Homo sapiens: one gene and its partners. The protein of the gene in region 1 purifies or fractionates together with the protein of each later gene. This does not show direct contact. Each region holds a gene or a part of one and is shown in the gene's direction. Other genes may lie near its edges.

What was found.
Region 2: the proteins of SLC25A24 (region 1) and ANAPC4 purify together in Homo sapiens (co-immunoprecipitation; one study listed by IntAct). This does not show direct contact.
Region 3: the proteins of SLC25A24 (region 1) and HK1 purify together in Homo sapiens (co-immunoprecipitation; one large-scale study listed by IntAct). This does not show direct contact.
Region 4: the proteins of SLC25A24 (region 1) and NIPSNAP1 fractionate together in Homo sapiens (co-fractionation; one large-scale study listed by BioGRID). This does not show direct contact.
Region 5: the proteins of SLC25A24 (region 1) and HSD17B11 purify together in Homo sapiens (affinity purification with mass spectrometry; one large-scale study listed by BioGRID and IntAct). This does not show direct contact.
Region 6: the proteins of SLC25A24 (region 1) and OCIAD1 fractionate together in Homo sapiens (co-fractionation; one large-scale study listed by BioGRID). This does not show direct contact.
Region 7: the proteins of SLC25A24 (region 1) and PPT1 purify together in Homo sapiens (co-immunoprecipitation; one large-scale study listed by IntAct). This does not show direct contact.

What each region holds. Positions count from the first base shown.
Region 1 is NC_000001.11:108,158,844-108,162,343, reverse strand, and holds part of SLC25A24 (mitochondrial adenyl nucleotide antiporter SLC25A24), read left to right. Parts: intron 1-1,050; coding exon 1,051-1,162; intron 1,163-3,500. UniProt on the Homo sapiens protein: Electroneutral antiporter that mediates the transport of adenyl nucleotides through the inner mitochondrial membrane. Originally identified as an ATP-magnesium/inorganic phosphate antiporter, it also acts as a broad specificity adenyl nucleotide antiporter.
Region 2 is NC_000004.12:25,415,263-25,418,998, forward strand, and holds the end of ANAPC4 (anaphase-promoting complex subunit 4), read left to right. Parts: intron 1-137; coding exon of another isoform or gene 138-144; exon of another isoform or gene 145-203; coding exon 204-278; intron 279-1,162; coding exon 1,163-1,336; intron 1,337-2,353; coding exon 2,354-2,477; intron 2,478-2,892; coding exon 2,893-3,120; 3' UTR 3,121-3,236; downstream 3,237-3,736. UniProt on the Homo sapiens protein: Component of the anaphase promoting complex/cyclosome (APC/C), a cell cycle-regulated E3 ubiquitin ligase that controls progression through mitosis and the G1 phase of the cell cycle.
Region 3 is NC_000010.11:69,395,347-69,398,846, forward strand, and holds part of HK1 (hexokinase-1), read left to right. Parts: intron 1-3,248; coding exon 3,249-3,482; intron 3,483-3,500. UniProt on the Homo sapiens protein: Catalyzes the phosphorylation of various hexoses, such as D-glucose, D-glucosamine, D-fructose, D-mannose and 2-deoxy-D-glucose, to hexose 6-phosphate (D-glucose 6-phosphate, D-glucosamine 6-phosphate, D-fructose 6-phosphate, D-mannose 6-phosphate and 2-deoxy-D-glucose 6-phosphate, respectively).
Region 4 is NC_000022.11:29,571,114-29,574,613, reverse strand, and holds part of NIPSNAP1 (protein NipSnap homolog 1), read left to right. Parts: intron 1-3,500.
Region 5 is NC_000004.12:87,381,189-87,384,688, reverse strand, and holds part of HSD17B11 (estradiol 17-beta-dehydrogenase 11 precursor), read left to right. Parts: intron 1-2,326; coding exon 2,327-2,434; intron 2,435-3,500. UniProt on the Homo sapiens protein: Can convert androstan-3-alpha,17-beta-diol (3-alpha-diol) to androsterone in vitro, suggesting that it may participate in androgen metabolism during steroidogenesis.
Region 6 is NC_000004.12:48,844,588-48,848,087, forward strand, and holds part of OCIAD1 (OCIA domain-containing protein 1), read left to right. Parts: intron 1-3,500. UniProt on the Homo sapiens protein: Maintains stem cell potency. Increases STAT3 phosphorylation and controls ERK phosphorylation. May act as a scaffold, increasing STAT3 recruitment onto endosomes. Involved in integrin-mediated cancer cell adhesion and colony formation in ovarian cancer.
Region 7 is NC_000001.11:40,090,753-40,094,252, reverse strand, and holds part of PPT1 (palmitoyl-protein thioesterase 1 isoform 1 precursor), read left to right. Parts: intron 1-1,745; coding exon 1,746-1,855; intron 1,856-2,080; coding exon 2,081-2,208; intron 2,209-2,853; coding exon 2,854-2,924; intron 2,925-3,500. UniProt on the Homo sapiens protein: Has thioesterase activity against fatty acid thioesters with 14 -18 carbons, including palmitoyl-CoA, S-palmitoyl-N-acetylcysteamine, and palmitoylated proteins. In contrast to PPT2, PPT1 can hydrolyze palmitoylated proteins and palmitoylcysteine.

The sequences.
Region 1 (3,500 bases):
CTAGAAATATCATTTGACCCAGCCATCCCATTACTGGGTATATACCCAAAGGACTATAAATCATGCTGCTATAAAGACACATGCACATGTATGTTTATTGTGGCACTATTCACAATAGCAAAGACTTGGAACCAAGCCAAATGTCCAACAATGATAGACTGGATTAAGAAAATGTGGCACATTTACACCATGGAATACTATGCAGCCATAAAAGATGAGTTCATGTCTTTTGTAGGGACATGGATGAAATTGGAAATCATCATTCTCAGTAAACTATCACAAGAACAAAAAACCAAACACCGCATATTCTCACTCATAGGTGGGAATTGAACAGTGAGAACACATGGACACAGGAAGGGGAACATCACACTCTGGGGACTGTTGTGGGGTGGGGGGAGGGGGAGGGATGGCATTGGGAGATATACCTAATGCTAGATGACGAGTTAGTGGGTGCAGCGCACCAGCAAGGCACATGTATACATATGTAACTAACCTGCACATTGTGCACATGTACCCTAAAACTTAAAGTATAATAATAAAAAAAAAAGACTCAAAGGCACAGTCACTGACAGTTTGATTTTTTATAATAGCTGTTAATTTTCCTAACTTCGAGGAAGTTGATAGCATGTTTTGAGTATATTTCAAAACTACATTCAAATGTTGCAATAGAACATTAAGAATTATCTTCATGATCCACTAAGTGCATGAAAAAAATGGATAATGAATCTATTCATTACCATCGTTTAATATTTTATCTTCAAGTTTTTGTGTTTTGTAGCTCATTGGCAGAGTTTGACAGAGTGCTGAAAGTATTCTTTAGTGAGCTGGCTGTAATTTTTGGGCCCATTTTTATCTAGATAATTAAAACTATCTGACAGGACCATAAAATGCTTGCTGCCATTTCCAACAACCTATATTTGTGGATGGGGTTTTTTAATTTAATGAGAATATTATGTTAGAAAAGAAACTGTCATTCTGTAAAGTGGCCAATAATGTTAGTTTTATTTATCAATTTAGTTTTGTACTTTGATCATTTTTTTAAAATTTCAGCATTGATGTTGATGGGACAATGACAGTGGACTGGAATGAATGGAGAGACTACTTCTTATTTAATCCTGTTACAGACATTGAGGAAATTATCCGTTTCTGGAAACATTCTACAGTAAGTCTACTTTATGTATTTATACTTATTTGGAGCTATAAACCATAGGTACAGTTATCACCCAAGAACACTCTGTAACACTTATGGGCCAGGATACCTGAGTCCCAGTAGCTCCTTAACCTGTAGAGTTCTATTTATTCTATTAGGCATAGATTTATAGAGTATTAAACAAAAAAAAACAGCTCTCCCTCTCCCTCTCCCTCTCTCTCCCCCTCCCCACGGTCTCCCTCTCCCTCTCTTTCCACGGTCTCCCTCTGATGCCGAGCCAAAGCTGGACTGTACTGCTGCCATCTCGGCTCACTGCAACCTCCCTGCCTGATTCTCCTGCCTCAGCCTGCCGAGTGCCTGCGATTGCAGGCGCGCACCGCCACGCCTGACTGTTTTTCGTATTTTTTTGGTGGAGACGGGGTTTCGCTATGTTGGCCGGGCTGGTCTCCAGCTCCTGACCGCGAGTGATCCACCAGCCTCGGCCTCCCGAGGTGCTGGGATTGCAGACGGAGTCTCGTTCACTCAGTGCTCAATGGTGCCCAGGCTGGGGTGCAGTGGCATGATCTCGGCTCGCTACAACCTCCACCTCCCAGCCGCCTGCCTTGGCCTCCCAAAGTGCCAAGATTGCAGCCTCTGCCCAGCCGCCACCCCGTCTGGGAAGTGAGGAGCGTCTCTGCCTGGCCGCCCATCGTCTGGGATATGAGGAGCCCCTCTGCCTGGCTGCCCAGTCTGGAAAGTGAGGAGTGTCTCTGCCCGGCCGCCATCCTGTCTAGGAAGTGAGCGTCTCTGCCCGGCCGCCCATCGTCTGGGATGTGAGGAGCCCCTCTGCCTGGCTGCCCAGTCTGGAAAGTGAGGAGCGCCTCTTCCCGGCCGCCATCCCATCTAGGAAGTGAGGAGCGTCTCTGCCCGGCCGCCCATCGTCTGAGATGTGGGGAGCGCCTCTGCCCCGCCGCCCCGTCTGGGATGTGAGGAGCGCCTCTGCTCGGCCGCCCCGTCTGAGAAGTGAGGAGACCCTCCGCCCGGCAGCCGCCCCGTCTGGGAAGTGAGGAGCGTCTCCGCCCGGCAGCCACCCTGTCCGGGAGGGAGGTGGAGGGGTCAGCCCCCCGCCCGGCCAGCCACCCCATCCGGGAGGTGAGGGGTGCCTCTGCCCGGCCGCCCCTACAGGGAAGTGAGGAGCCCCTCTGCCCGGCCACCACCCCATCTGGGAGGTGTACCCAACAGCTCATTGAGAACGGGCCATGATGACAATGGCGGTTTTGTGGAATAGAAAAAGGGGAAAGGTGGGGAAAAGATTGAGAAATCGGATGGTTGCTGTGTCTGTGTAGAAAGAGGTAGACATGGGAGACTTTTCATTTTGTTCTGTACTAAGAAAAATTCTTCTGCCTTGGGATCCTGTTGATCTATGACCTTACCCCCAACCCTGTGCTCTCTGAAACATGTGCTGTGTCCACTCAGGGTTAAATGGATTAAGGGCGGTGCAAGATGTGCTTTGCTAAACAGATGCTTGAAGGCAGCAGGCTCGTTAAGAGTCATCACCACTCCCTAATCTCAAGTACCCAGGGACACAAACACTGCGGAAGGCCGCAGGGTCCTCTGCCTAGGAAAACCAGAGACCTTTGTTCACTTGTTTATCTGCTGACCTTCCCTCCACTATTGTCCTGTGACCCTGCCAAATCCCCCTCTGCGAGAAACACCCAAGAATGATCAATTAAAAAAAAAAAAAAAAAAACAACCCAAGACTGCATAAATGTCCATTCTGAAAACTTGGAAGAAGTACCACCTTGATGAATAAGCTGTCTAGCTTTTATTGGCATTTAAGTATTCTGCCATAGGGAAGTGTAAAAGTTGTAGGCTTTTACTTTTTATAGGTACTATATTGTCCAAATAATCTCAGCACCTCATGGTTGCTAAGGATCTGTGTCCTTGTTTGGTCAGATTATGTTTATCTCTGGCATAAGGCACTTAACAATATTCATTAAAGGTTACAGAATCTTTTTGCTTCATCTGCTTAGCATTTCATACCAGTTTGTTTTCCACCAAACTTTCAAATTTTGATTGTTTCATTAATATTCTGCATACTGATGTAAACCAAGTTCTATTATTGTGCAATCTGCTCCTGAAACCCTTAGGAACTCTCTGAAGGAGTTTTATTTATTTTTTGTTTTTGTTTTTGTTTTTGTTTTGTTTTTTTGAGACGGAGTCTTGCTCTGTTGCCCAGGCTAGAGTGCAGTGGTGCGATCTCGGCTCTCTGCAAACTCGGCCTCCGGGGTTCACGCCATTCTCCTGCCTCAGCCACCGGAGTAGCTGGGACTACAGGCACCCACCACTGCGCCTGGCTAATTTTTTTTGT
Region 2 (3,736 bases), on another chromosome or scaffold:
GGGTTATTTCTATTCCAAATGTCTTTGGTGACTGTGTGATTTTAAACCAAATTGGTTTATCTATCTAGGCATTTAAACAAGTTCTCAGTGTTCTAAAGAAGTACATGTACTGACCCTGACAATCATGTTCTTTTAAGCCTTTAGATTATTGACTATCCAGGTTGTTCCACAGAGTCTCTTTTTTTCCCCCTTCTTTCTTGAAGATCTGTGAGTAATGGACTAATTGCTATTAAATTTGGGAGCTTTACATATGCCACAACAGAAAAAGTCAGAAGAAGGTAAGTCTTGAATCTTGTTTGGATGAAATGTAGATACATGTGATATGTGTATATGTTTAGGAATAGGATCAGACTCAGTTACGGTGGTAATATAGGTAAAAGGGCTTTGCCACTTCCCACATCAAGGGCAGGATTCTTTGTGTATTTATACATAGAGAATGATTTGACTTGTGATTGAATAGAACCTTACTGCCCTGCAGTTTATGTCGTACGGTTTCCTATAATTAATACTCCTGAGCTCCCTGTTGACAAAGAAAGTAATGTGGTTCCCATGGGCAGATGGCCTGCAGGGCTGAAGTTCTTGTTACGACCAAAAAAAATTATGAGGTGATGCCATTCTTAGTGATGGGAGATTTTCTTAGGATTCAAAATGGTAACAGTACCTAAGCCATCCCTGAGGCTTCGCAAGGGAAAGAAGTGACTAATCATAGGCTGATCTTTTTCTCACTTTTTTCCTCACATAAAATAAGTTTTTTTATGATAAAGTCCTTGGAGTTGCTGTGCCTATTTTTCATGTGTAGTATCTTATTTTTATTTCTCAGTCTAGTCAACTCTGCTGAATGTGTATATAAGGTGTCATTCATAGAATTTCCACAGGCTTAAGGCCTAACCATTGATGGCCAGGGGCTTTCTAGAACTGAAACAACTTCACAGATTTTTGGGGGTCATGATTACCCATTTTTAAGATTTGGTTATATATGTGAATAATCAGTACAAAAAGTAACTGATTTTAATACAAACCAATGATATATTTTAAATGTTATTGTACAGAATGTCACTTAACTTTTAAATTTTTTTCTGCTTGCTGCCAGTATAACATGCATACAATATTTTCTCAGTAGTCACGATCATCTTTGATATAACAAAACTTATTTTAATTCTAGCATCTACAGTTGTTTAGATGCACAGTTTTATGATGATGAAACTGTAACAGTAGTTCTTAAAGACACTGTAGGACGTGAAGGAAGAGATAGACTCTTGGTCCAGCTGCCTTTGTCTTTAGTATATAACAGTGAAGATTCTGCAGAATATCAGTTCACTGGGACTTATTCTACAAGGTAACTAGTAACATTGTCTTTCTGATATTACAGTTAAATGTTTTTTTAATGCACATTATAAATTCCAACCTTTTAGGTACGCTAGATAATGGTTATTTCGTTACTAGAGATAACCACAGAGGTAGCTGAGCAGAAATGCTCCAATTTTTCATTCAAAATATGCTGGCCTTAATAGCTTTTTTTGTCCCTTTGCTTTACTAGTAAATCAGGAAGTATTTGCTGGAATCAAGGTGGGGAATTATTTGGAGTGGATAATGGGACTTCTTTTAGTTACATTTTTAAGGATAGCATTAACCCTAGTTGGTTGGAATTAGTTATTTTTGATTTGCCTTCAGTATTTTCCTTCCAGAATTAAGACCTCAGTACCCATGTAGGAAGTATACTGTCAATTCCAAGAGATGGCTTTAATTGACTGAGACTTAAGTAAGCAGATCTCTAATTTAAAAATGTATCCATTTGCTTTCTTTGAAAGGGAGTCAGAAACCTTGCTAAGATGATATTCTGCCTGTTTGGAATTACAGTATTTCTTTTCTTTTTTTTTTTTGAAACAGGGCCTCTCTTTGTCACCCAGGTTGGAGTGCAGTGACGCAATCATAGCTCACTGCAGCCTCCAACTCATGGGCTCAAGTGACCCTCCTGCCTCAGCCTCTCATAGCTGGGACTACAGGCATGTGCCACCTTGCCTGACTAATTTTATTTTTTTACAGAGATAGAGTCTTACTATGTTGCCCAGGCTGGCCTTGAACTCCTGGACTCAAGCAATCCTCCCACCTTGGCCTCGCAAAGTGCTGAGATTCCAGGCATGAGCCACTGTGCCTAGCCAGAATATAGAATATGGAATTTTTATAGAATATTATATCACAGCTTTTTTTCTAACACAACAGTTGCTAAAATTATATTGGAAATAGAAGTATGAGTAGAAGTCAAAACCATAATTGACCCTAATACCACCTGTAGTAAAACTAGGGAGGATAAGATCCCCTTTTCATTCCTGAGTTGGTTTTTTTCCCTCTTTAGGCTAGATGAACAGTGTAGTGCTATTCCCACCCGTACCATGCATTTTGAGAAGCACTGGAGATTACTGGAAAGTATGAAAGCACAGTATGTTGCTGGGAATGGTTTTCGAAAAGTGTCCTGTGTGGTAAGTGTTTAGAGATCGTTCAGCAACTAAGAAATTACAAGAAGTAACGTTGCTTCTTTGGAACCTTCATCAAATACATGATATATAAGGTCCTTTTGTGCAAATATTTTTACTGTGATTTATAGCTTGTATTGATTATGATCATGTGGTGGCCTTAGCTATTTAGTTCTTGTTCTGATAAAGCTTACTAAGTAGTTAATAATAATACTAGATTTTAATCTCACGAAATTGCCACTGTTGTTATGTGGAGATCTTTTTATACAAAATGAAGGCTGAATTTATTGATTTTGTTGTAAATTGATGGGAATATAACTTTCCTATAAAACCATTCTTTGATTCAGACTTCTGATTTCTAATTCTTTATATATGATAAGCCATTAATTTAAAAATGCTTTTATGGCCTTTTCTTTTTTAGTTAAGCTCAAATCTTCGTCATGTGAGAGTATTTGAAATGGACATAGATGATGAATGGGAGCTCGATGAGTCTTCAGATGAAGAGGAGGAGGCCAGTAATAAGCCTGTAAAAATAAAGGAAGAAGTGTTGTCGGAGTCAGAGGCAGAGAACCAACAAGCTGGTGCTGCCGCTTTAGCTCCAGAGATAGTCATTAAAGTGGAAAAACTTGACCCTGAGCTAGACTCCTAATCTAGCTTGCCATTATTGTGTGTGTAATTATGGCCAAAAGGACATAGGAGATGGACTAAGATGTCTTGGACCACCTTTGTGTAACAAAGAAATAAACAGTAAATTTTATTTTTTCATATTCTGCTTCATCTTCTCTTAGTGATATAGTCACTATGATAGACTTTATTTTTTCTGAGCTTTCTCTTTAATGCTATGTGCAGAACTAGTGTTTAAAGAAAACAGGGCCAGGCATGGTGGCTCATGCTGGTAATCTCAGCACTTTGGGAGTCTGAGGTGGGTGGCTCACCTGAAGTCAGGAGTTCAAGACCAGCCTGGCCAACATGGCAAAACCCCGTCTCTACTAAAAATACAAAAATGAGCTGGGCGTGGTGCATGCCCCTATAATTCCAGCCACTTGGGAGGCTGAGGCATGAGAATCGCTTAAACCTGGGAGCCAGAGGTTTCAGTGGGCTGAGATTGCGCCATTGCACTCCATCCAGCCTGCGTGATGGAGTGAGACTCTGTCTCAAAAAAGAAAGAGAGAAGGTGAACAAATTGAATATGAAGAAAAAGTCTAATCTTTTCTGTCAGAAGGGTAGGTATCAGGAATTGTTCCTGTATCATTGAAATAGTCGCT
Region 3 (3,500 bases), on another chromosome or scaffold:
GCAGGCGGATCATGAGGTCAGGAGATTTGAGACCATCCTGGCTAACATGGTGAAACCCGATCTCTACTAAAAATACAAAAAATTAGCTGGGTGTGGTGGCATATGCCTGTAATCCCAGCTACTTGGGAGGCTGAGGCAGGAGACTCACTTGAACCCAGGAGGTGGAGGTTGCAGTGAGCTGAGATCGCGCCACTGCACTCCAGCCTGGCCTGGCAACAGAGCGAGACTGCATCTCAATAAATAAGTAAATTACTTACTTTCCTTTTATCCATCCTTTATGTTGGGGCATTATATTGATTTATTTGAAATTATGTGTGTAAGAGGGCCATATGGATTCCATTTCAGATGGTAAAGATGCACTACACATACTTGTATTGGGGGTGCATAGGGCCCACCTGGATTTATCTGAAAGGCAGCCTGGGGTTCAGTGCCAGGCCACCCAGGAGCTGATGCCCCTCAGCAAGTTGTTCCACCTTCTTTCTACTTTTCTCCTGTCCAGGGTACATTTCTTCCTGGCCTTTGCTGTCTTCTAAGGCACGCTGTGTGAGAAGGAGGAAAAAAGGGTCAGAAAAAACAAAAGCAATTGTGCAAATACTGTGTTCTTCTTAGAATGGTCATAATAACCTAACGTAGGCTCTGTGTAGGCTGGGCACGGTGGCTCATGCCTGTAATCTCAACACTTTAGGAGGCCAAAGCAGGTGAATCACTTGAGTTCAGGTGTTCGAGACCAGCCTGGTTAACATGGCAAGACCCCATTTCTACAAAAAGTGCAAAAACTAGCCGGGCGTGGTGGCACATTCCTGTGGTCCCAGCTATTTGGGAGGCTGAGGTGGGAGGATGGCTTGAGCCCGGTGGCGGAGGTTGCAATGAGCTGAGGTTGCACCACTGCACTCCATCCTGGGCGACAGAGACAGACTCTGTCTCAAAAAAAAAAAAAAAAGAGAAAGAAAAGAAAAAAAATATTAAACCTTAAACAAAAAAAAACCTAACAAGCCTATACACTGCTCTTACCCAGGCAAAATGGTTTTTAAGTATACAGTTCGGTGACATTAAGTACATTCACATAGTCGCACAGCTATCACCACCATCCATTTCCGGAACTCTTTTCATCTTCTCAGCTGAAACTCTGTACGCAGCAAACACTAACTCCACATTCCTCCCTCCCCCCACCCCAGCAACCACCATTCTACTCTCTGTCTCTATGGATTTGACAACTCTGGATACTTCATATAAATAGAATCATACAGCATTTGTCCTTTGTGACTGGCTTAATTCACTTAGCATAATGTCTTAAGGTTCATCCGTATTGTGGCATGTGTTAGAATTTCCTTATTTTTTTATTTTTATTTTTTGAGACGGAGTTTCACTCTTGTTGGCCAGGCTGGGGTGCAATGGTGCAAACTTGGCTCGCCATAACCTCTGCCTCCTGGGTTCAAGCGATTCTCCTGCCTCAGCCTCCTGAGTAGCTGGGATTACAGGCGTGCGTCACCATGCACGCCCGGCTAATTTTGTATTTTTAGTAGAGATGGGGTTTCCCCATGTTGATCAGGGTGGTCTCAAACTCCCGACCTCAGGTAATCTGCCCACCTTGGCCTCCCAGAGTGCTGGGATTACAGGCATGAGCCACCACGCCCGGCCATAATTTCCTTATTTTTAAGGCTGAGTGATATTCCATTGCATGCACACACTGCATTTTGTTTATTCATTCATCCATCCATGGACACTTGGCTTGCTTCCACCTTTTGGATATTGTGACAAATGCTGCTGTGAACACGGGTGACCAGTATCTCCTTTCAGTTTGTGTGTGTGTGTGTACGCACCCCAAGTGGACTTGCGGGATCATATGGTAATTCCCTGTTCAGTTGTTTGTGGAACCACCATGTTGTTTTCCACAGTGGCTGTAACATTTTACATTCCCACCAGCAGCCCGTGAAAGTTCTAGTTTCTCCACATCCTCGCCAACACTTGTTATTTTCTGAGTTGAGAATAGCCATCCTAATGGGTATGAAGTGGTATGGAAAGTCTTTTCAAGCATAATAGCAAAGAAAGAAATCATAAAGAAAAATGGCCAAATATAGCTACATAGTGTCTGTAAGTAAAAAAAAAAAGTAATCAAACTTAAAAGGCAACGGTAAACTGAGGAAGACATTTGTACTGTGTATGACAAGACGCCTAGCAGGGCATGGTGGGCTTTGGCAGGTCTGGTCTACACCTGCTCTTCTCCACCGGCTGTGTGCTTTGCAATACTCAATTTCTCCCAGCCTCAGTTGCCTTATCTTTAAAATGGGAATAATCATACATTCATTGGTTGTTTGAGGAGTAAGTAAGGTAATGTATGTAAAATATATGTTACATGGTAAGTCCTCCAAGAAGCCTGGCTGGTCTTCATTGTACCATCCCAGTTATCGTCTCTTTCAATTTAATATAAATAAGACAAATATATCAGGAGAAAAGTCTTGAGACGTAAGAAGTAGTTTATATGGCCAAAAAACAAATGGAAAAAAAAGAGATCATCCTCACTAATAGAGAATAATATAAATTGAACTACAGTCTTGTGATGCCTTCTTATAAAACTGTCAAAAGTTGTAAAAAAATGCTCTTTTCCAGTGAGGATAAGTGTGGCCAAATACTCTGCTGAAGAGTAAATGGATACAATTTTCTGTAAGGCATCTGGCAATGTGTAGCAAAAGCTCGTTGACCCAGAAATTTATCCTAAGGAAAAACATCAGAATTGCACACAAAGATTTATAAACAAACCTTATCAAAATGTTTCTTTATAATAGCAGAAAATTGCAATTAACTTGAATTTCTCCAAGCTGGCTAAAGAAATCATGGTGCATCCCTAGAGGGAATACTGCAGCAGCTGTTTCCAATCCTGTTCTCAGATAAGGCTGTGGGAAATTGCTCAATGCATGAAACAGGAAAGAGAAAGAAAATCACATATCAAGGATAATCCCATTTTGCATATCATGAGAAGCATACCAGCTAGGAAAAATAAACTGGAAGGAAATATATTAAAATGTTAATAGCATTTTCCTAGATGTTGAGATAGTGAATGGTTTAGATTTTCCAATTTTTATTTTGCTAGATTTGCCAAATTCTCCACAGTTTAACATGTAACACTTGCCCTTGACTCTGTCTGTGGATGAGTACAGTGATTGGGGGCGGGGGGCGTCCTTTGGACGTGGTCTCCAGGCTGCTCTTGTGGGTCCTGCTTCATCCAGCCCTCTGGCTCTTGTCCCCCACAGTGACCGATTAGCACTGCTCCAGGTCCGGGCTATCCTCCAGCAGCTAGGTCTGAATAGCACCTGCGATGACAGTATCCTCGTCAAGACAGTGTGCGGGGTGGTGTCCAGGAGGGCCGCACAGCTGTGTGGCGCAGGCATGGCTGCGGTTGTGGATAAGATCCGCGAGAACAGAGGACTGGACCGTCTGAATGTGACTGTGGGAGTGGACGGGACACTCTACAAGCTTCATCCACAGTGAGTGGGCCTTCCAGT
Region 4 (3,500 bases), on another chromosome or scaffold:
AGAGACTGAGTTTCACCATGTTGGCCAGGCTAGCCTCAAACTCCTGACCTCAGGCAATCCGCCCGCCTCGGCCTCCCAAAGTGCTGGGATTACAGGCATGAGCCACCGCACCAGGCTGATAATTGTCTTTTTGCTAATGAAGCAGATGCATGTACAATGATCGAGAGAGTTCATGAATTCAGAAATGCTTAACACACTTTAAAATCTTTATAAAAAATTACAATGAATAAAGAAAAATTTAGCCATCTCCTATTCCTCTTTCCCAGGTAAGCAGTATTAACAGTTTGGGACAAGTAATTTATTTTCTTTTCTTTTTCTTTCTTTTTTTTTTTTTTTTTTTTTTTTTTTTTTTGTGAAGATGGAGTCTCACTCTGTCATCCAGGCTGGCGTGCAGTGGCGTGATCTTGGCTCACTGCAGCCTCCGCCTCCTGGATTCAAGCAGTTCTGCCTCAGTCTCTCGAGTAGCTGGGACTACAGGCACACATCACCACTCCTGGCTAATATTTTGTATCTTTTTTTAAGTGGAAATGGGGTTTTGCCATGTTGCCCAGGCTAGTCGTGAACTCCTGAGCTCCAGCAATCTGCCCGCCTCAGCCTCCCAAAATGCTAGGATTACAGGCATGAGCCACCATGCCCAGCCTCTTTTTTTGTTTTGTTTTGTTTTGTTTTGTTTTTTGAGACAGGGTCTGCTCTGTTGCCCAGGCTGGAGTGCAGTGGCCCGATCTCAGCTTGCTGCAACCTACGCCTCCTGGGTTCAAGCGATCTTCCCACCTCAGCCTCCTGAGTAGCTGGGACTACAGGCGCACTTGACACTCGACCACACCTGGCTAATTTTTTTTTTTTTTGAGACAGAGTTTCACTCTTGTTGCCCAGGCTGGAGTGCAATGGCCTGATCTCGGCTTACTACAACCTCCACCTCCTGGGTTCAAGCAATTCTCCTGCCCCAGCCTCCTGAGTAGCTGGGATTACAGGCATGCACCACCACGCCTGGCTAATTTTGTATTTTTAGTAGAGATGGGGTTTCTCCATGTTGGTCAGGCTGGTCTCAAACTCCCGACCTCAGGTAATCCACCCGCCTTGGCCTCCTAAAGTGTTGGGATTACAGGCGTGAGCCACCGTACCCAGCAATTTTTTTATTTATTGCAGAGACAGGGCTTCAGACTCCTGAGCTCAAGTGATCCGCCTGCCTCGGCCTCCCAGAGTGCTGGAATTATAGGCGTGAGCCACCATGCCCGGCCCATTTCTCATTTTTATGCTTATACAAACATATCACCACTTTGGCCCAGCGCAGTGGCTCATGCTTGTAATCCTAGCACTTTGAGAGGCCGAGGCAGGTGGATCATGAGGTCGAGAGATCGAGACCATCCTGGCCAACATAGTAAAACCCCGTCTCTACTAAAAATACAAAAATTAGCTGGGCGTGGTGGCACACGTCTGTAGTCCCAGCTACTTGGGAGGCTGAGGCAGGAGAATCACTTGAACCCGGGAGGTGGAGGTTGCAGTGAGTGGAGATCATACCACTTTACTCCAGCCTGGCGACAGAGCAAGACTCCATCTCAAATACAAACAAATGAACAAAACAAAACAAACATATCACCACTTTAAGATTATTTTTAAAAAGAAATTTTTTTTTTTTTTGAGACATGGTCTCTGTCACCCAGGCTGGAGTGCAGTGGCCTGATCATAGTTCATTGTAGCCTTGATTTCCTGGGCTTCATGCGATCCTCCTAAGTCTCTCAAGTGGCTGAGACTACAGGCATGTGTCACCACACCCGGCTAATTATTGTATTTTATTTTATTTTATTTTATTTTTTTGAGATAGAGTCTCACTCTGTTGCCCAAGCTGGAGTACAGTGGCAAGATCTTGGCTCACTGCAGCCTCAACCTCCCAGGCTCAAGTGATCCTACCACCTCAGCCTCCCAAGTAGTGGGACTACAGGCACATACCGTCATGCCCAGCTAATTTTATTTTTTGTAGAGACACGGTCTCACAAGTTTCCCCAGGCTTGTCTCATGGCCTCAAGCAATCCTCCTGCCTCAGCCTCCCAAAGTGCTGGGATTACAGGCATAAGCCAGTCATATTTATTATTTTTTTTGTAGAGATGGAGTCTCATTTTGTTGCCCAGGCTGATCTTGAACTCCTGGGCTCAAGTGATCCTCTGACCTCAGCCTCCCAAAGTACTGGGATTACAGGCATTTAGCCATCGTGCCCAGCTGATTTTATCCGTCCCAATGGCTGCTCCATATTTTGGAAAAAATTGATTGATTTTTTATTTGCAAGACATTTGTCCTTTTTTTTTTTTTTTTTTTTGAGATGGATTCTCGCTCTGTTGCCCAGGCGGGAGTGTGATGGTGCGATCTTGGCTCACTGCAACCTCTGCCTCTCAGGTTCAAGCAATTCTCCTGCCTCATGCTCCTGAGTAGCTGGGATTACAGGTGCACACCACCACGCCTGGCTGATTTTTGTATTTTTAGTAGAGACAGGGTTTCGCCATGCTGGGCAGGCTGGTCTCGAACTCCTGACCTCAGGTGATCTGCCTGCCTTGGCCTCCCAAAGTGCTGGGATTGCAGGCGTGAGCCATCACACCCAGCCTAAGACATTTGTCTAACCACATAAAAGTCTTAAAAAGGGATAGGGCAGCCGAGTATTTGTATTGTAAAAATACGAAAATTACCTGGATGTGGTGGTACGCGCCTGTAATCTCAGCTACTCAGGAGGCTGAGGCAGGAAAATTGCTTGAACCCGGGAGGCCGAGGTTGCAGTGAGCCGAGATCGCACCACTGCACTCCAGCCTGAGCAACAAGAGCAAGACTCTGTCTCAAAAAAAAAGAAAAGAAAAAAAGAAAAGAAAGGATAGGGCTTCCTGTGACCTCACTTGGAAAAAACAAAAGAGAAAAAAGAAAAAAGGGATAAGGCTTGCTGCCACTCAGGGATCCCTCTTGCCAGGCTCCCTGGCTAGGAATTGTCTCCATTGGGAGACTTCCTTTTCAGGCCTGGCTGCAAGCTGCACCAAGGCTGTGGAGCGGGAAGATTGGTAGTCTCAAAATAAGCACCCCTGCCTCCTGCTGGGACCTTGGGTATGTGTTTAGGATGGGAGTGCAGTTCTGGTCCAGTAGGAGCTGGCAGCAGACCCTCCACTGCCCTTAACCACAGTGCTCATGGGCAAAGCACATAATCATATTCATTGATCATTCATTCATTCATTCTCAGTATCCTATGGAGATGGGCAGAGCAGGTGTTGGCTGGATGAGTGAATGCATCTTGCTTTGCAGTGCCTTTTACTCCCTCTATCTGCCAAACCAGTCCTGGGGACTGACCAGCTCATCTCCTCCTCTGTAGAGAGTCTGCCCAGGTTGCCAGAAGCAGAGTTAAGGCTAGTTCACCTGGGCTCTTCCAGAGACCCCTCCTATAATTGTGTCCCAAGGCCCATTTCTCCTAGTGGACTATGAGCTCCTCAAGGACAAAGCTTATTTGTATTTGGCTTTCCATGTGTGGGGTC
Region 5 (3,500 bases), on another chromosome or scaffold:
TCCCCACCCTAATAAGCCTGATAGTACTGCAGGAGACCAGGGCGTATCTCAGTCCTTACCTCAACCACATAGGACGGACATTCCCAGAGCAGCCATTTATAGACCTCCCCGTAGGAATGCATTCCTTTCCCAAGGTATTAATGTTAATATTCCTTGCTAGGAAAAGAATTTAGCAATATCTCTCCTACTTGCACATCCGTTTATAGGCTGTCTGCAAGAAGAAAAATATGGCTCTTTTTTGCCCGACCCCACAGGCAGTCAGACCTTATGGTTGTCTTCCCTTGTTCCCTAAAAATCACTGTTATTCTGTTCTTTTTCAAGGTGCACTGATTTCATATTGTTCAAACACACATGTTTTACAATCAATTTGTACAGTTAACACAATTATCACAGTGGTCCTGAGGTGACGTACATCCTCAGCTTATGAAGATAACAGGATTAAGAGATTACAGGCATAAGAAATTATAAAAGTATTATTTGGGCACTGATAAATGTCCATATTAAAATGAAATCTTCACAATTTATGTTCTTTGCCGCGGCTCCAGCCGGTCCCTCCATTCGGGGTCCCTGACTTCCCACAGGAGAAAAAGAACTTGTTTCCCTTTATTATCATAACAGTTTCACTATGCAAGCTACTAATTCTCCCCACAGCTGTCCAGATTTGGCCTTTCCAACATTAGTTGCCATTTACAAATGTGTACACTGATTCACCATCCTCTCTGTGGATAAATGTATGAGTCCTCCTAGGGTCTGCCCATTAGTGCATTAGTTGACAATTATTAGGTTGATGCAAAAGTAATTGCAGTTTTTGTCATTAAACTAATGGCAAAAACAGCAATTACTTTTCCAACAACCTAATACTTGGCCTGCAGAATGCACAATACTAGATCTTCATCCAAAATATCTTTTGAGACATTCTCTTAAAAGTTAAAAAAAAAAAAAGGCAAAAATTGGCCAAAAGCAAACAAGCAAAGATAACAACAACAACAAAAAACCCCAATGGTATGATCCTAAACTTAAGTTGACTCAAAATTGGCGCCCCAAATTGGACTCATAACCCCTTTTCCTCAAATCTGCTGTCATCTCTGTCTGACATGTGGCAGCGTGATCTTGCCAGCTACCAAAACTAGAAAGCAAAGATGTCAGATGTGGCTCCTTCCCATCCTTCCTCATCTACTCACCAAGTCTTACTGATTTTACCTTCTAAACATATATTTTAAAGGATATTCTTTCCTCTACATTTTTTCTACTAATGCCACATTTCAAGTTTGTGTCATCTATTACCTGAATCACTGTAACTGCCTCTCAGTTTTTTTCTTCCTCCAGTGTTGACCCCTAAAATCCACCCTCCATACATCAGCCAAAATAATCAATACGACACATAAACCTGACACTATAATTTAATCAGTGGCTCCTCATTCATTTTTTGATAAATCTTAATATGACATGTGGGACCTTAATCTGAACTTCTTCTGGCCTTGACCTTTATGATCCATCCAACAACACTAATCCTACTAGTGGTTTCCACAAGACCAATCTCCTATCTGTCATTGCCCACACCCTGCCTGATGTGTCCTTTCACCCTGGGGAAAGCAAGTGAAAGGGCATGGCAAACCACTGCTGGAATTGTATTGTGTGCCCCTCTGTGTTCCCGTAACTCCCTGTATAGAACTCTGCTGTGATACTCATCACAATGTATTAGGTTGAAACTGCCAATATTCAATCTTTTATTATCAAAACAATAACAGTATTACGTGGTCCTACTTAACTATGATACTTATGTTTCTTTCTACTACACAGAGAACTTCTTGGGGTCGGGACTCTACCTCATTCATATTTGTGTCAAGGTTTTTCTAAGCTCAGTGAATATGACCTTCACATTAAAATGCTGAAAGAACAAATGGTTTAATGAACTGTGGTTAACTCATTATTTCTTTTGCAGACAGTAAACTGACATCCATGAATAGTTTTTAATGACATGGAAAAAAGTTTAATGTTACATTTTTTAAAGCCTGATATGGAATACACAGAGATACCAACATTCACAAAGTATTCAAAGTTCATAAATATAAAAACTAGTATTTTAAGATTTTTATCTTCTTTTAAGAAGCTTGCTTTAAATTCAGCTCCAAATAAAAGAAGCTAGTCAAAATACTAAAAGCAAAATGTGCCTATATACCTGCCAAAAATGTGTTGTTAACAATCTTGCCCAATTCAAATGGAAAGAATCTCACTACTTTTTAAAAATTATTTTTAATTATTTTCAGCTGTCGATATAATATGTTCATATCAATTATTACCTTGCCCTCTTTTTTGCTTTTTCTAGCATGGACTGGAGGAAACAGCTGCCAAATGCAAGGGACTGGGTGCCAAGGTTCATACCTTTGTGGTAGACTGCAGCAACCGAGAAGATATTTACAGCTCTGCAAAGAAGGTGAAATGTTGTGTTTAGTTAGAATCATATCATGTTAGAGCTAGGAGGTGTTTTGGAGATGACCCAGTCTGTACATGATATAGATGAAGTACCTGAGAAATGTTGTTATTTGACCAAGGTTATAGAACTAGCTCATAGCAAACCCAAAACTAGAACCGAGAACTGAACCTCTCAAATATTAGTATGTTCTGGAATTTTCCAGGGAGTTGTTAAAAATGTATATATATACTCTTGGGCTCCACTTCCAGAGATTTTCTTTCAGTAGGTTGAAGGCAGGGCCTCAAATACATCCACCCTGCCTCCCATGCGCCTTCATCTCACCCATGATGCTCATATAGGTAACTATGCCTGGATGACACTTGCAGAATTGCTGACAGGGTCTTCTGAAGCCCATTCATAGAATTGGGTTAGAAAGTTACAATAAAGCTATTCTTTATCAGGTTTTTATTGTAGATAGATCTATTTCTTTTCTTTTCTCTTTTTTTTTTTTTTTTGAGATGGGGGGTCTCACTCTGTTACCCAGGTTGGAGTGCAGTGGCATGATCTCGATTCATTGCAACCTCCACCTCCCAGAATCAAGCAATCCTCCCACCTCAGCCTCCCAAGTAGCTGGGACCACAGGTGTGTGCCACCACGCCAGCTAATTTTTTGTATTTTTGGTAGAAAACGGGGTCTCACCATGTTGCCCAGGCTGATCTCGAACTCCTGAGCTCAGGGGATCCACCCACCTCAGCCTCCCAAAGTCCTGGGATTATAGGCATGAGCCACGCTCCCAGCAGATCTATTTCTATAAAGCATTATTTGCCTCTTCTAGATACAATTGAGATGTGCTGTATATAATGGGGTTTCACTCTGAACGCATTCTCGCTTGTACCTGTTAACTAAATACCTTAATGGCAGCAAGGTCATCAGAATTACCTGGGCAGATTCCTTAAAATACACATTCCTGGACCTTACCCCTGGATATTCTAATTCAGTGCAGTATAAAAAGTGTGATTCAGCAAGACTTGAGAACCTCTTTGTTTATGGAATTTTTGGTTTGAGTTCTTTTTTTTTTTTTTTTTTT
Region 6 (3,500 bases), on another chromosome or scaffold:
CCTGGGCAACAGAGCGAGACTCTGTCTCAAAAAAAAGGTAAAAATTGAGAGAGACTTTAAGAAAAGAATTTGGAATCCACCAAGACATTTTGCATTTAATCAAAATCCCTGACATTTTGTACAGTGGTCCTTTTGTGTCTGTGTGGATTGGTTCCAGGACCCTCCAGAGGATACCAAAATCCACAAAAGCTTAAGTCTCTGATATAAAACGGCCTAGTAAAGTTTACGTGCATATCTGCCTGTATACTGTAAATCATCTCTAGATTACTTATAATACCTAAGACTATGTAAACACTATGTAAATAGTTGTTATACTGTATTGTTTAGGGAATAATGACAAGAAACAAGTCTGTACATGTTTAGTATAGATGCAGTTTTTTTTTTCCTAAATATTTTCTATCCGCAGTTGGTTGCAGAACATGTACATATGGAGGGCTGCCTGTATCCCCTTTCATCCACAGTGTGTCATACTCCACGTGGTCTTAGATGTTCCTTCTGTTTCTTCCTGATCTGCCAAAACCATTTAAACATGCTCAGGTCTCCTCTAACTTGAGAACATTAAAAAGAAAAAAAAATCCTCCCTCATTTGTTTTTCCAGCTACTCCCAACTGCCTCATATTTGAAGCCAGAGGCAGACTTCATGAATGAGCCCTTCACTTTTTACTTCGTTTAACCCATTGCAGTCAGTGTGAGACTATCCATATGTTCTACCATTTATTGGAACTTTTCAAAAGTTCAAAAACAAACTTTTCAAAAACAACCTGTTTGTTGCTTAAATATAATGGACAGTTTTTGTTCTTGACCAACGTTACATAACTTTAACCAGTTTTTCTTGAAATAGTCTATTCTCTTGGCTTCCATGATGGCATATTCCTAAGATTTTTCTCCTACCTCAGGCGATTCCTCTGTTTCATGTTTTTTGAGTGTCTGATATGTACTATACATTGTTATATAGCACTAAACAACAAAAATTCATTAACTCTTGGTGCTTACATTCTTGTATGGGTTTTTTTGTCTAGTTGTTTGGGAAATGTTGGTGTTACTATATTTTGGATATAATATATAATATGTATGGCCCTTCTATAGGCTCCTCAAACAGAACTCAACCATTTTCCACAAAACCAATTCCTCCTTTCCCTTCATGACTGAGTGGTGTTAGTACTATCCAGGAAACTGGGACATTATCCTTCACATCTATCCCTTATCTGCCTTGTCCAATTAATGTCTTTTAGCTCTTAAATGTCTTTATTAACTATCTACCTCCATCTGTACTGCCAGCATAATTAATGCAACCATATGTCACAAAGAGTATTGCGTTAACCTTCAACAAATCTGTTTGTTTCCATTCTTGCTACTTCTCCTTAGGAAAATAAGCTATTTCTAGCACCTGACAGAGGACATACATAGTGCACATAGTACTCAAATATTTGAGGGGATGAATAGCAACCATGACACTATTATCTTTGTCTTAACTCTCTCTCTAGACTGTAAATTCCATGAGAGTAAAGAGTGTGTCCTGTTTCCTGTTAATATCCAGTATGTAGTACCTTTATGTTGTAAGTGGTCTATAACTAGTTGGTGACAGTATGAAGGAACAACTTTTTAATGTAAAAATAGAGATGTTCTTACCATCTTCCTTTTTCTATTGTCATCCCAGTTCTTATAAATGAAGGAACTGAGGCTAAAGGCACAGATTAGTTGTCTGTTTTTGTACTTTAATTACATGAAATCATACACTGAAATATTCTTTTATGTAAGTTCTTTCAACATGGTGAGATTCATCCAGTAGCATGCTGGAACTGGTTTGTACTGGCTCCTGAGAATTGGTTGTTAAATTTTCGGGAACTTTGGCAAGCTGGTTTTTAAAGTGTTGGTAGTTGGCCGGGTACGGTGGCTCATGCCGGTAATCCCAGCACTTTGGGAGGCTGAGGCAGGCGGATCATGAGGTCAGGTGATTGAGACCATCCTGGCCAATATGGTGAAACCCTGTCTCTACTAAAAATACAAAAAATTAACTGGGCATGGTGGTGTGCACCTGTAGTCCCAGCTACTTGGGAGGCTGAGGCAGGAGAATTGCTTGAACCCAGGAGGCGAAGGTTGCAGTGAGCTGAGATGGCGCCACTGCACTCCAGCCTGGGGACAGAGCGAGACTCGTCTCAAAAAAAAAAAAAAAAGAATTGGTAGCTTTACACCATGGAAACTGACAAACATTAAAATTAGAGCTTTTTATAGGGAGTGCTGGTTTACCAGCACATCATTGCACTTAACCACATTGTTGCATGTAGTTGCCCTATAGTTTTCCTCTGTGTGAATACACCAGTTTATCTATCTGAACTGTGCATTGATAATTGGTAGTTTTCAATTTTCACTGTTACAATTAGTTTTGCCAAGAATATGGTGCCTTTTTGATAGACATTTTGCTGGGTCATAGATTTTGTATATATTTATTTAGCTTTAGTAGATATTACCAAACTATTTAGACCAATGTATACTCCTACATTCTCACCAACACTAGCTATTTTTATGTCTTTTATGTTTTAGCCATTGTGGTAAATAAACACTAATATTGATTGCATTGTGGCTTGAATTTGTATTTCCCTGTAACCAATGAAGTTGAAGACCTTTCCATTTGTTTATACTTCATTTCAGCATATCTTTTTCTGTGAAGTATCTGTTTAAGTCTGTTAACCATTTTTCCATTGTATTGTCTTTTTTCCTATTGGTTTTGTGAGACTTCTCTGTATACTTTGGAATTGAGTCTTTTGTCAGATATAGATATGGTGATTATTTTTTCCCCACTCTGTTTAACTGTAGTTTTCAGTGTTAATAGAGTCCAATTTATCAGGTTTCTTCTTTCTAATAGGTGCTTTTTGTTGACTCTTTAAGATCTTCGTCTACTCTAAGGACACAAAGATGGTCTCATGCTTTCTTCTGTAAAATTTTTTAAAAAAATCTTTCATATTTAAATTTTTAAGCCATCTGGATTATTGTTCGATGTAGGATCAAGGTACATTTTCCCCTGTTAATGGATATTAATTGACCCAGCACTATATTTGAAAGGACTATGCTGCAGTGTTGTCTTTGTCATAAATCAAGTGTGCAGGTGTGGATCTGTTTCTGGACTCTTAGTTTTGGTCAGTTTGCCTATTCTTGTACTTAATACCAGACTGTCTTAATTACTACAGCTTTATCATGTAGATTTTGCTATCTGGTGGTAGTCAGTTCTATAATACGATTCTTCAGTGTTGCCTTGGCCCTTTGTGTTCCACATGACTCTTAGAATAAGCTTTTCAATTTTTGTAAAACTTTGATTTTAATTGGGATTGCATTGTATTTATAGGTGAAGTTATGGAGAATTGCCATCTTTAGAATATTGGGTCTTTCAATTCTCAGTAAGTTTTATAACTTGTCAGTGTAGAGATCTTTCATATCTTTCATTAGATTTGTTCCTGGGTTTTGAGCGTTTTTTTTTTTGGTGCTATAATTAATTCTGTCTTCTA
Region 7 (3,500 bases), about 68 Mb from region 1:
TGAAAAATTGTCTTCCACAAACCTGGTCCCTGGTGCCAAAAAGGTTGAAGACCGCTGTCCTAGATGCTTAATTTGCCTCACCCTAGTCCTGGCCCTGAAGAGAAAACTTTGCATCTGTTCACCCCAAATATCCCCTGTGATAGGGGAAGGGAATGTGTACCTCTGCTTATTTTTCATTTGTAAATTTGGTGTCTTAATTATCCTATATGGGCTTTTTGGTTTTTTTGAGACAGGGTCTCGTTATGTTGCCCAAACTGGTCTCGAACTCTTGGCCTCAAGCAATCCTCCTGCCTCGTCTTACCAAAGCGCTGGGATGATAGGTATGAGCCCATGCTTGGCCTATATGGATTTTTTTTTTTTTTTTTTTTTGAGATGGAGCCTTGTTCTGTTGCCCAGGCTGGAGTGCAGTGGCATGATCTTGGCTCACTGAAACCTCCACCTTTCAGTTTCAAGCGATTCTCCTGCCTCAGCCCCCCAAGTAGCGGGACTACAGACATGTGCCACCACACCCGGCTAATTTTTGTATATTTAGTAGAGATGGGGTTTCACCATGTTGCCCAGGCTGGTCTCGAGCTCCTGACCTTGTGATCCACCCACCTCGGCCTCCCAAACTGCTGGGATTACAGACGTGAGCCATGACACCCAGCTCCTGTATGGACTTTTGAAGCTTGTTATTACTTGATAAACAGGAGCTAAGCAAAAAATGTTCTTTCTTCTGTTTTTTAAAATTGAGGTAAAAATTCATGTAAAGTTAACCATTTAAAATGGTACGATTCAGTGGCATTTAGTGTATTTGCAATGTTGTGCAACTAACACTTCTTTTTCAACACCCCAGAAAAACACACATAGCCATTAAGCAATCACTCCCTATTGCCCCCTCCTACTACTTCTTGATAATCTCCAGCTTAGTTTTCTGTATCTCAGTGGATTTGCCTGTTCTTTATTTATCCTATGAAAGGAATCATGCATTATGTGGCTTTTTGAGTCTGGCTTCTTTCACTTAGTATAATGTTTCTGAGGTTCATTCAAGTTGTAACATGTGTCAGCACTTTGTTCCTTTTTTATAACTCAGTAATATTCCATTGTGTGAATATACCACATTTTATTCATTCATTCATTGATGGACTGCTGGATTGTTTCTCCCTTTTGACTATTACAAACACTGCTGCTGTTAACATCTATATGCAAGTTTCTGCATGGACGTGTGTTTTTATTTCTTTGGGGTGTATAACTAGGAGTTGAATTGCTGAGTCATTTAGTAATCGTATGTTTAACTTTTTGAGAAACCACCAAACTGTTTTTCACAGTGGCTGCTTATTACATTCCCACCAGCAATGTCCAAGGGGTCCCATTTTTCTACATCGTTGACAATACTTGTTATTTTCTATTAAAAAATTATTATTAAAGACATCCTAGTCTGTGTGAAATGGTATCTCATCGTGGTTTTGGTTTGCATTTCACATGCCAGTGGTTAGCCATTTGTATATCTTCTTTGGAAAAATATCTGTTTAATTTCTTTTCCCATTTTTAAATTAGGTTATCTTTTTGTTGAGTTGTAAGTGAGTTATAGATTCCTTGTATATTCTGGATATTAAGCCCTTATCAGATAACTGTTTTGCAAATATTTTCTTCCATTCTATACATTGTTTTCACATCCTTGATAATGCTGTTTGAGGCCTCAGAGTTTTTAAACAATAAACAATATTTGGACTCATGAGTTTCCATCATTGTGTTTTGTTGGCTAGGAGACAGCTGTTGCAATCCCTTAAGCATGGGTGCTATTAAAAAAATGGTGGAGAAGAAAATACCTGGAATTTACGTCTTATCTTTAGAGATTGGGAAGACCCTGATGGAGGTAAGGCGCTTCACAGCTGTTCCTTTGAAGGGTTGCTGACTGATTTCATAGCATATACTGTTAAAATGCTTTGCCTTGTGTTTTCAGCAGCAGATCATACAGTGATACTTTCACCCTTGAGTGGCTCATGTGAGGATACCAACCTAAATGAGTTTACCTCTTAGAGAAGATGTCAGTGGTTGTTTTCAGTCCCATCCTCTCACTTCTCTCTGGCTTCTTTTTTAGGACGTGGAGAACAGCTTCTTCTTGAATGTCAATTCCCAAGTAACAACAGTGTGTCAGGCACTTGCTAAGGATCCTAAATTGCAGCAAGGCTACAATGCTATGGGATTCTCCCAGGGAGGCCAATTTCTGTACGTTCCTTTTTGTTATATTGTACCACTTATATGGAATTGATTTTTGTTTCTTTTATTCAGATAAATCCACTCCTCCAATTCAAGATTGTCACCTATCTTGGAAGGGAAATTTCCTAAAATGTTCCTGTGTAAGAAGCTTTATGGAACTTAATTTCTTTTCTTTTTTTTTTTTTTTTGAGACAGAATTTCTCTCTTGTTGCCCAGGCTGGAGTGCAGTGGCGCGATCTCAGCTCACTGCAACCTCCACGTCCCAGGTTCAAGTGATTCTCCTGCCTCAGCCTCCCGAGTAGCTGGGACTATAGGTGCTCACCACCACACCTAGCTAATTTTTTGTATTTTTAGTAGAGATGGGGTTTTACCATGTTGTCTAGGCTGGTCTCGAACTCCTGACCTCAGGTAGTCCACCCACCTCAGCCTCCCAAAGTGCTGAGATTACAGGTGTGAGCCACCATGCCTGGCTGGAGCTTAATTTATTTTCTATGAAAGTTGAAAGAAATATTTGCATTTGCCCATATCAGGAAAATCCTGAAACTCTGCGGGTTTGGGGAGTCACAGAGGATGACTAGCTTAATCTGTGATGCTGATTGTGGATGATACATTTCCATCTGACAGTCGGAGCTAAAACTCCCTTTTATTCCGTAGGAGGGCAGTGGCTCAGAGATGCCCTTCACCTCCCATGATCAATCTGATCTCGGTTGGGGGACAACATCAAGGTAACTTTGCCTCTTTGCTTTCTTTTTTCTGTATTCTAACCCACATGACCACCTGATTTAAAAAAAAATCTAGGAACTATATTTGCACAAGACATCAGCCATTCTTGCAAAATCCTGTTTCTCTAGCTTTTAACAAACTAGCCAGCATTGCTGGAGACATAGGAAGAGACTTAGGATTCCAGAGGCCTGGATCACTAGGTTGGCATCTACTTCTCTCCAATTTCATTGACACGATTGCATGGAAGTAAGATGGTTATAGCCACGTGGCAGGTGGTGGTTGAGGAGTTAGGAAAATTGAGTGACCTTTTCTGTTCTCTGATTTGGTGGTATCCTCTTGAATTTAGGCTTAGGCAAAGAATAGTGTGTAAGCTCTTGTGTCTATAAATTTAAACTCTTTGAGAAACAGCAGGTTTTCTATTTTGACGGAATTCCATACTATTGGGGAAGGATGTGTCATTAGAATGGAATTTCATCTCTGTTGTTGATGGGTATAGCTATTAGCTGGTATAATGTGGGAGCAGAATGATTCTCCGTGTAATCAGGAAACCTGGACTCACCCAATTAACTATTACTCCT